Regions from separate parts of the Homo sapiens genome. Here region 2 is linked to region 1. The links come from fine-mapping of genetic effects on gene expression. A gene starts in region 1. The other region holds a variant in brackets. All regions are shown on one strand. Distances are from middle to middle. Region 1 holds the start of REV1 (REV1 DNA directed polymerase). Region 2 overlaps AFF3 (ALF transcription elongation factor 3).

Region 1 (5,528 bases):
CCAAGTGTAGGGGTCCAGCGCGGCCATCTCTAGACCCCCAGAGTGGCCCAAAGGTCAGCCTGACTCCCCTTACATGAGAAAGATAATCCTATGAGAATAAATATAAATAGATAAGTGGGTGAATAAATGTAGGTGCATGAAATTGAAACAAGAGGACTTCATTATGTGATGGCATAAAACATAATATTCTGGAATGGACAAAAATAAAACTTTGGACTGGGTGAGGTGGCTCATGCCTGTAATCTTAGTGCTTTGGAACACCTAGGTGGGAGGTTCGCTTGGGACCAGGAGTTTGAGGTTACACTGAGCTATGATCTTGCCACTGCACTCCAGCCTGGACAACAGAGCAAGACCCTGTCACAAGGATGCTAGAATTTGTCCATAAATACATTTTTATTTATGTATTCCCCATCTCTCTTTTTATCCTATTTTATGTAGACAGCAACGTGATTTTTTTTCGTCCTTTACAGAGGCTGCCTACTAGTTTGCAGTTAATACCATTTTACTGTATTCTATAAAGGTATTGCCAAGGTCAGTTGGCTCAAGGTTTGTGTTTCTTCCTTGAGAAAAATACAAAAAGAAGAAAAAAAAAGATCTTCGGTTTGAATACGAGAGTGGAAAAGAAAATTGAAATACAATCGTGCAGGAATGCTGCCATTTAGACATTTAAAACAAGCAAAAGAACAACAACCAAAACAAAACTCACCCATAACAAGGGGTTACCACTGTTTTTCTGTAGCATCTCAGCAGATGACCTCCTGGTGTTGCAGTCGGCAACTGGTCGTGAGTCTGTTAAAATTATGGGCAGGCACGGTGGCTCACGCCTATAATCCTAGCACTTTAGGATGCCAAGGCTGGTGGATTACCTGAGGTCAGGACTTCCAGACCAGCCTGGCCAACATGGTGAAACCCCCTCTCTACTAAAAATACAAAAATTAGCCGGGCATGGTGGCGCATGCCTGTAATCCCAGCTACTCGGGAGGCTGAGGTGGGAGAATCACTTGAACCTGGGAGGCGGAGGTTGCAGTGAGCCGAGATCGCGCCATTGCACTCCAGCCTGGGCAAAAGAGCAAAACTTCGTCTCAAAAGAAAAGAAAAGAAAAGAAAGCAATTACGCAATTTGTTTTAAATTATGACGTCTTTGAAAAGTATGCAATCTAAATTCGTTGGATTAGCGACGAGAATACTGAAGTTGAAGTGCATTTATAGAAGTCTATAAAATGGCAAAAAACTGAAAGGGAAAGAAATGAGCTATTTGAGTATTCTCTGTGTTGCTAGTAAACAAGTTCCAACTCTGCAAATCAGTTTTCAAAAGAATACTGATTGTTTCCTAAGTACCTGCAAACTCTGAAGCATTTTAGGCAAGGGAATGAGTGGGAAAAAAGTATCTTCATGTTTGTGCATTACAACAATAAAGACTATTATGTAACAATGTGGAGTCTTCAAAGCGACCCTGCCAAGAGGGAGAAAGTGGTCCTTATGGACGGATTGTTTTCTGCTAGAAGGCCCTCAATTAGAATTGTACTTACGCATACATAATATAGGATATTATTTTTATATTCATAGAAAACTGCTTTCTCGGGTAACTCCAGCGCTGTACATGGGATGGGATACCGGCCCTCCGTTTACAAATACTCAGGCGCAATGCTGCCCGGGCACTCAAAGGACAGAAGATAGTGTCTGTGCCCTGCGGGAGCAGGCCACGAATCCCGAAAACGCCGTGGCGCAGTGCTCCTTCCCGCGAACCTGAGTGGGCCGTGGTTCTCGGTTGCTCTGGACATAGGAAAATGTCAGTTCATGTGTGTCCCTTTCTCCACTAGATGTCACTGTAAATCAATTGCTTAAGGAGGGAACCCGGGCGTCTGGCGCATCTTCACACAGTACCGGGGTTTGAAGCCCGGTCAGTGTCTGCACTTGTGTCCTTCCCCACTGGGGAGCCCCAAGGCGGGGCAGGCGCGGGGACTCGCTGTGCACGGAGCGGCGCGCTGTCCGAATGGCAACCGAAGAGCCGCGACCCGGTCAACGAAGCGCGGGGGTGACCGGAGCAGGACGGGCGGGCAGGCGGCGCAGTGCGTGGGCGGGCCCGCGCTGCGCTCCCCTCCGCCCAGCTAGCGAGACGGTCACGTGCCGCCCAGGCGCTGCCCCTTGCGGGCGGCTGCAGAACAACAGGGCGGGGCCGGGGAGGGGAGGAACACGGAGGCCGACGCCGGGCGCCGCGGTGCTACGCCCGAGGCTGGGGTCGCCCCGGGCCGGGGGGAGCAGAGCGCGTGCGCCGCGCGGCTGTGAGCGCGAGCGGGGCCGGGGAGCGCGCGCGGAACGCTAGGGGGCGTGGCTGCGGCGCGCGCGCTAACCGGAGGGGGAGGGGCGGAGAGCCACCGCGGAGCGCGCGCGGGGTTGGTTGCCGCGAGCGTGGGGGAGCGTGGACCGCGGCGCTGCTCAGCGGTGGGGCTGCCTTCCCCCGGCCCTCCTCCCTGGTCCCTGGCGAGGGCACTGGCGGCGGCGGGGCCGGGGTCCGCAAGGCCGGAGAAGGCCGCCGGGCCCGGGCATGGTGGTCTGGGGCAACGCGGAAGGTGAGCGACCCCCGGGCCGGCGGCGGGGTGGGGGAGGGGCGGGATCGGACACGCGTCGCCCGGAGGCGCCGCAGACCCGCCCGGCAGCGGCCAGAGCGCGGTCGGCCTGAGGTGGCGCGGGGGAGGGGTGCGTCGCCCCGGCCCCGGCCCGCGGCCGTCCTGTCGCGGCCTGGGCTGTCCACGGCGCCTTCCCCTGACGCTCGCAGCCGCCGGGTTATGTAATGTGTGACCTCCCCTCCCCTTCCCTTCCGTCATGGCGCGGCCGGCCCCGCGCCGCCGCCAGCCCCATGGGCCGCCCCGCGCCGACCCCTGGCGCAGCGGCCCTTCCCTCCGCGCCCGGCCGCATCCCGCCGGCCCGGTCAGACCGCGCCGCAAACTCCTTCCTCCTGCGCCGGCGCCTCGGCCGGCCATTCAGTTCCGCGCCATTCATTCACGCGCGCGTTCGGGCGTTCGTTCCACAAGCGTTTGTAGAATGTCGACCCGGTCGAGCCGCCGCTCCCACCCGCACTCCAGCCACAGCGTTTTTCCGCACCCCGCCTTCGACGTCCCCGGTGCATCCCAGAACCGGTCGGAATGTCCGAAGGCGGTTGTTGCTCCCTTGTTTTTCCTTGCTGCTTGTCCGTTCGCTAAATACGCTGGGCGCCGTTCCCCAACTGTCCTTCCGAGAGCCCCTTGCCCACTTCTGTACTGTTACAGTGACGCCGCTCTGGGCGCACCGAGCCGCGCTGTGTTTCGCTGCTCTTCCTACCTATTCTCAGTTTGTAAAGAAATAATCTCACATAACACTCCTTAATGTACTCCTCCGTAAGATAAATTGCAGATAATATACGTCTGCTAATTCTCTTTATCTCCACGTCTTCTCACGCCATGTACTAAGTAGAAATGGTTTCATTTAGGTGAAAATAATGCAGACTAGCACATAGCACAACAAGGGCTTGTAACTATTAAGGACTTTATGTAACAGTCTGTAATTCTGTGTATCTGTCTGGTCTTTCCGGACTTGGCACTTTAGTCTCCGAGAATAAGCCATTTCCTGTTTAGGTAGGGTAGGACCAACCATAACCTTGGTTCTTTCTATGGAGTTCTGTATGTAGCAAATCAGCCTGTGGGAACCATCTATCTGTCCACCAACCTTTCACACATATTCTTGGGTTTGCCCGTGCAGGGACCAGTGCTGCGTATTGTTCCCTGCCTTCCTGTACTGGACACTTAAGAGCTCACCTAAAGTTCCTCTTCCAGGAATCATTCTCCAGTATACAAGGCTCTCTTCCATTCAATTCTTAGGCTATTTGCGCCTTTTCCTGTGTTGCGTTTATCTTTTTAGCCCTGTCTTCTCTTACTGTGTAGGACCTTTTGAGGGTAGAGTCTGTACCAAACTCCTATCTTTTGTTGTAGAACCTTAACCGCTATTTTACGGTAAACCGTACATATTTAATTTTTTTTGTAAAGATGGGAATTGCTCTTTTAAAATTAATTTCTATGAGGTCTCAAGTAGAACATAATTTTTAAAAAATAATGTGCTTGAATATATAAGATCACTACATTTCCAACTTCCCACTCGCAACTTCAAAACTCTGATTCTACATAAGAGCATTAAGGAAACGTTGTCCTCACCAGCAACAAACTGGTCATTATTCATAAGAAGTTGCAGTGACTACATATAATATATATTTGAAAGCACTTTCTTTGATAGCTGCTGTAGTGGAAAGACAGGAAGTTCACAGTTACATGGAGGTTAGATTTCTGGCCCTACAAATTGTTAGCTGGTGACTGGACAAGTTAAGTTACTAGTATCTCTGATTTTTTCTCGTTTGTAGAATGAAGATACCATTTCCCACCTTGGGTAGCTGAGGATTAAATCAGTTCTTAAACGTGAGACATCTAGTGACACCATGGTACTCAGGAGGTGCTCAGTAAATACATATTCCCTTTGGTATACCTGTTTATTGCAGTTCACAATCTAGAATGAGCCAGGATGTGCTAGAGACAAAGCGTGAGAGGAAAGGTAATCAGAAGAGGTGACAGGTACCTCTCGTCTCCAAATAAATGAACAAGTCCTACACTAAAGAGCATTGTGGGTCTTTCTGCTTTTCAAGAATGTATGGGTGTGTATATGTGGCGTATTACTAATCATAGAGTATATTAAACAGAACATTTAAAAATGAAAAGTTTTTTTTTACTATAATAGCACCAACTGAAGCGTTAACATGGACATTAAAAAATAATCTTATTTTTTTCCAAAGGCAAGTCAGGAGACGAGACGGGAAAAGGGATATTAAAAAGGCTCTTTAGAGGCAATTAGGTTGCAGGCTCTTCTGTTAGCATCTACTTATAAACAGTACATGAATCCTAGTCTAAGTTCCATTATCTCTTGGTTGGAGTGTTTCCATAGTGCCTTTACTGGTTTATTTCTCTTGCTCCCTGACTGTTCCCTAGGGATTCACCTTGACAACCAGAGGGATCTTTTTAAAAATGTAAATCAGATTGTCACTTTCTTGCTTAGTGTCCTCTAAAAGCATCCTGTGAACCACTTACATTTGAATCTTAGTCGCCATCAGGGCATAGCATGATTTGGCAGCTGCCAGCTTCTAACGTTACCTCTTACTAGGTGACTGACTTTCAGCAACCTACCCCAGTCCCATAGTCATTTTGCCGGTTCTTGAACAAAGTGTTTCTTCCTTAGGATGTTATACTTACTATTCTTTTAGCTGGACCACCCCTTCCTCTAAGTGGTCAAGGCTCTTCATGTCTTGTCTTGTGTTTCTGCTCAAATGTCATCGCCTCAGGCCTTTTCTAATTCTAAAATAGGAACCAGCCCCTTCCTTTATAATCTTTTATTCTTTATTCTCTTTTTCTCCATAGCATTTATTACTAGGTGAAGATACACTGTTTTTTTTTTCCCACTTATTTATTTCCCCCCTTAGACTTGTTTGCTGCCAGCCCTGTTCTCAACAAGCG
Region 2 (5,000 bases), 71 kb before region 1:
CAGGGATGAGCTGAAGCCCCGGTGGCACCAGATCAACCACACAGACTAAAATAGTATCAGAAAGGCTCTGAAAATTAAATTATCATTGGAACCACAGCCCCCAAAGTAGGCTAGGGCCTTCCTGCTAGACCTAAACAGGGTGGCTGGGTTTAAAATAGGACTCAAGAGTCTCCTAACCTAATGGTCAAAATGTCCAGGATACCATAGGAACTCACTCATCATACCAAGAACTAGGACAGTCACCACTGGCATGAAAAAAGATGATCAGAAGACCTCAATGCAAAGATGAATCAGTTGCTGCAATTATCTGACAAGGATTTTTAAAGCAGCCATCGTAAAAATGCTTCAATAATCACAGTTATCACTCAACAAACAAAACCAGAAAATCTTTTCAAAGAAATGGAAGTTATTTTAAAAAGAACTAAATGGAAATTGTGAAACTGTAGAATTTGATAATATAAACCCCAAAAATGGACTCAGTAGTAGAGTGGAGATGACAGGAGAGAGTCAATGAACTTGAGGACAAAAAATATAATTTACCCAATCTGAGCAGTAAAGAAGAAATAGACTGAAAAAATTAAATGAACACAGCCTCAAGCACAATAAGAAAAAATCCAACATTTGTGTCATGGAAGTCTCAGAGGAGAGGAATAGAGAGTAGGACTGAGAGAGTATTTGAAGAAATAATGGCTGAAACTTGCCAAATTTGTCAAAAGACATAAACCTACAGATTTAAGAAGCAGAGAAAAACCTAAATAAGATAAACCCAAAGAAATGCATGCAAAAACACACCATGATTACATTTCCAAAAACTAAAGGCCAAATATCCTGAAAGCAGCCAGGGAGAAACGATAATTATCTGCAGGGGAGAATCAATTCGAATGACAGCAGGCTTCTCTGAAACCATGCAGGCTGGGAGGGAGTGGCGTGACAGTTTCCAAGGGTTCAAAGAAGGAACTGTGAAGCCATGAATTCTAGAGTCAGTGAAACTATTCTTCAAGAATGAAGGGAAATAAAGATAGCCTCAGATTTAGGAAAAGTACAAGTATGTGTCTCTAAAAGACCCACCCTTAAAGACTGGCTAAAAGAAGTTTCTCAAACAGAAATAAAATGACAAAAGAAGGAATATGGGAGCATTGGGAAAGAAGGAAGAACAGACACATAGATATATATACAATAAACTACTCCTTATGAGTTTATAAACCAGGTTTGAGGATTGAAACAAAAATTATACCAGCAGTCCAGGCACAGTGGCTCACATCTGTAATTACAGCACTTTAGGAGGCCAAGCTGGGAGGATAGCTTGAGGCCAGGAGTTTGAAACCAGCCCAGACAACATAGTAAGACCCCACTGCTACAAAACAAAACAATAAAAAATTATACCACCATCTGATACTCAAGACAATGCTATTTTTAAGTGGGGAAGGTAAAGGTATCTAAATTGAAGTAAGACTTCCATACTATCCCAAAGTGATAAAATGTTGATACCAATAAATTACATGTATATTGTAAAATCCAGAGCAACCGCTGTAAAAATTATGCAAAGAGATAACACTGAAAAATGCTACAAGTCTGCATGTTGAGGAGATAGTGCGATGATAACAGTATGTTTCTTGAGCAATTTACAAGCCAGCCAACTATCCCAAGAGCTTTACAAACGCTATCTTAGTTAATTCTTAACACAATGTTATGTGATTGGCAGTATTAGTCTTATTTTATAGATAAGGAAATGGAGGCTTAAAGATGTTAATACATTTGTCTAAGCACTTACAACTTATAAGTCGCTGAGCTGAGATTTGAACCTAGGACAATCTGATCATTACACATACTGCCTCAGCTCTCTCAAAGAGTCTGCATATGTAATTTGGTATGTTGTTGGGAGAAAGCAATGGCCACAGTCCCCTTGGTTCAGAAAAATAAATGGAATTAAGTGCAGTCCATAAAAGCCACTAGTTTCTCGTAGTATCTGTCTGTAGAAGCAAACAGAGATTAAAAATGTACTCAGGACACTTATGTAGCTGTCAAAGTAAAAGTTACATAACAAAGAAAGAGGGGTAAATCTAAGCATTCCTCTGCATACCCAGGATGGAAATTCTTCTGGAGGTAAGCACAGAAGGATAGAACTTCACCTCCATCTGTCAGACACTCAGCCATAAATCAAAATGTGGAAAAATGGACATGTTAGCATATACATGAATAGTTCTTGAACTGGTATCACTCCCGACAATCTGTAGCATTTGAACTTGTACTGTTAAAGAGCAGAAAGTAGCTGTTCTAGTCATCACAGTAATGTAATACTTGGGAAAATGGAGCAGCACCAGCTAGCTTTTAAGAAAGAATTATCAGCAAGTACTATGAAAAGCTAAGGATCAGGCAGGGAGAACTACCATCATAGAAGTTCTGTTAATAAAAAAGCTAGTTTTACTATTTCTTTGCTTTTTATGTTTTTTATTCTATTCCTCCTCCCCGCTTTTTCTAAGGTATGCTATGAGACTAAAAACCCACTCAGGCCCCAATGCCACACCAGAAGACAAACAACTGGCTGCATTATGGTGAGTGCCCATCTCCGCTTAGAATAGCAGCCCCAGCCTCGCATGCCATCA[T/C]TGGCAAACCAGGTGCTGAAAGGCATAGTGTTTGCCCAATGTCTTCTAACATACAAAGCCCCAGAGCAGTTCTAATGACCAGGGAAAGTCCAGACCATTTTTTGCTGCCGTACTATACATGATCTGAATTCACAGTGATTGAAAATCGACAGGCCTACCAAAGTGCTGGGATTACAGGCATGAGCCACTGTGCCCGGCCTAATTTTTGTATTTTTAGTAGAGATGGGGTTTCACCATGTTGGTCAGGCTGGTCTTGAACTCCTGACCTCAAGTGATCTGCCTGCCTCAGCCTCCCAGAGTGCTGGGATTACAGGCGTGAGCCATCGCACCCGGCGCAGCCGCTTACTTTGAAAATGATGCCACAGAAAAAAGGGAACGATCGGGTAACCTATAGTTCCTTTACCTGTCAGCCCTTTCTTACTCATCAGTAGGTGGAAGGCAGAGAATGTTGATAGAATACATGTCTACCAAGCAGTGAAATAAAGACAGTTGAATTAAAAAATAATAATAACAGCAACAGACACAAAAAAGGTCTCAAATTGTTACCTGTCCTGGATTTGGTTGGTAGGAGGAGATGGTGCCATTGCACCCAGAATGTTGGTATTCTGGATGTCAGCATCAGATCCGAGTTAGCAAATAACTGAGTGAAGAGCTCCAAGGAAGAGAGGATAAGTCTCAGAAACGCCTTTTGTGCCCCTTTCAAACTTTAAGTCCCATATTGGAATAATACACTAAATGACAATAATATGATTATATAAGATAGAATACTGATATATAAATAAGTATACAAAATATTATAGGAAATAATAAAATGATGGCACCTATTCCCAGCATAGTGTTTTTGTTGTTTATAATGATGGCACCTATTCCCAGCATAGTGTTTTTGTTGTTTATAAAGTACATTCATGTTTGTGACTTTAGTGGAGCTGCTTATAGTTCAGTAACATCAGGTGGCAGCGTCGTCCTTTCCGCAGAGCGGGGCTCGCCCGCGAAGCAGTGAAGGCTGCGTACTAGAGCTACCTCGCGCCTCTCGTGGAGAGACAGCGCCCTCTCGTGGTGGAAGAAGGAAGCGGCCGGCCCCTGTGACCCAACAGAGTGATTCACCTAATGCTGTAAAATTATCTAGTGATAAATGTATTTATGGAATACCTTCTTGGAATTTTGAATTCTATTTTTGGACAAAAGATGTTCCCTCACAGACATTATATGCACGTATAGAAAGATTTCCTATGTAGAAACAAGGTATTGTTATTGAGTACCTTAGAACAACAACAAAAATGTTTAAGTCTTGTTTGCGCACGACGCACTCAGCCGCTTCTGGGCCTGTTTCTCTTTTCGCCTGCAGTTACCGATGCCTGGCCCTCCTGTACTGGCGGATGTTTCGACTCAAAAGGGACCACGCTGTAAAGTATTCAAAAGCACTAATCGACTATTTCAAGGTACTGTCTAGTGAATGAGCAGAATTGTTCCTTAATTTCACTTGTCTCCCTGTCAAATTTGTGAAGCACCTGGTAGACTCCATTGCTTTGGGGTTAATGCAGGTCACCTCTGGTCCCCAAGGTAACCCCATTTATGCCACACTTGTGGCTTTCAGGCCTCAGAATGGACCTTTGAGAGCCCATCTAATGTATCTCCCTGCCTTCTTGTCCAAGTATTTTTATTTTTTTATTTTTATTTTTTTATGTATTTTTGGAGACAGAGTTTCACTCTTTGTTGCCCAGGCTGCAGTGCAATGGTGCGATCTCGGCTCACTGCAACCTCCGCCTCCTGGGTTCAAGCAATTCTCCTGCCTCAGCCTCCCAAGTAGCTCAGATTACAGGCGCACACCACCACGCCTGGCTAATTTTGTATTTTTAGTAGAGATGGGGTTTCACCATGTTGGTCATGCTGGTCTCGAACTCCTGACCTCAGGTGATCTCCCCGCCTCCACCTCCCAGAGTGCTAGGAATACAGGTGTGAGCCACCACGCCCAGCCTTGTCCAGGTATTTTTATGGCTTCAAGAGAAAGAAGATCCAGTTACTCGTTCCACTGTCCTAGGAAATTCATCTTTATAGCTAACATAAATTCCTCATGCTCACTTAGAGCTTCTTTTCCTTAGAAGTAACCCCTTAGAGCCATTCCCTCTTAGCCAGTCTCTAGTAGCTTATTTAATTTTTAATGGCGTTATTTAAAATGGTAAGAGATGGCTTGTTAGAACTCAGAAGCAGTAGATAGCAGTGTGTAGCTATAGGGATAAAATTGCAAACCATGCCACCTTTTACTTATCTCAGGGAATGAAATTATTTTCACTGGGAGAATAAATTTTTAAAAGCCTTCGCTGATGTACTGTTGTGAGGTCGACCTTACATTAATAATTAATTTGAGATTTCTGGTCCTCTTCTCTGTTTATCTATAGA

Evidence for each region. PIP is the estimated chance that this variant, and not a neighbour inherited with it, causes the effect.
Region 2: its variant is fine-mapped to the expression of REV1 in whole blood (INTERVAL, PIP 0.94).

The regions. Positions count from the first base shown.
Region 1 is chr2:99,486,859-99,492,386 of GRCh38, reverse strand. It overlaps REV1 (REV1 DNA directed polymerase), which reads left to right and starts at 2,370. Exons shown (of 23, transcript NM_016316.4): 1 at 2,370-2,570. RefSeq lists an enhancer at 1,547-2,432 and silencers at 1,866-2,535, 2,646-2,745, 2,816-2,895.
Region 2 is chr2:99,557,917-99,562,916 of GRCh38, reverse strand. AFF3 (ALF transcription elongation factor 3) reads left to right here. Exons shown (of 25, transcript NM_001386135.1): 21 at 2,481-2,552; 22 at 3,949-4,042. Among named protein-coding and RNA genes, the nearest start is that of REV1, 70 kb to the right of the region's middle. The variant T/C (reference allele first, on the strand shown) is at 2,604.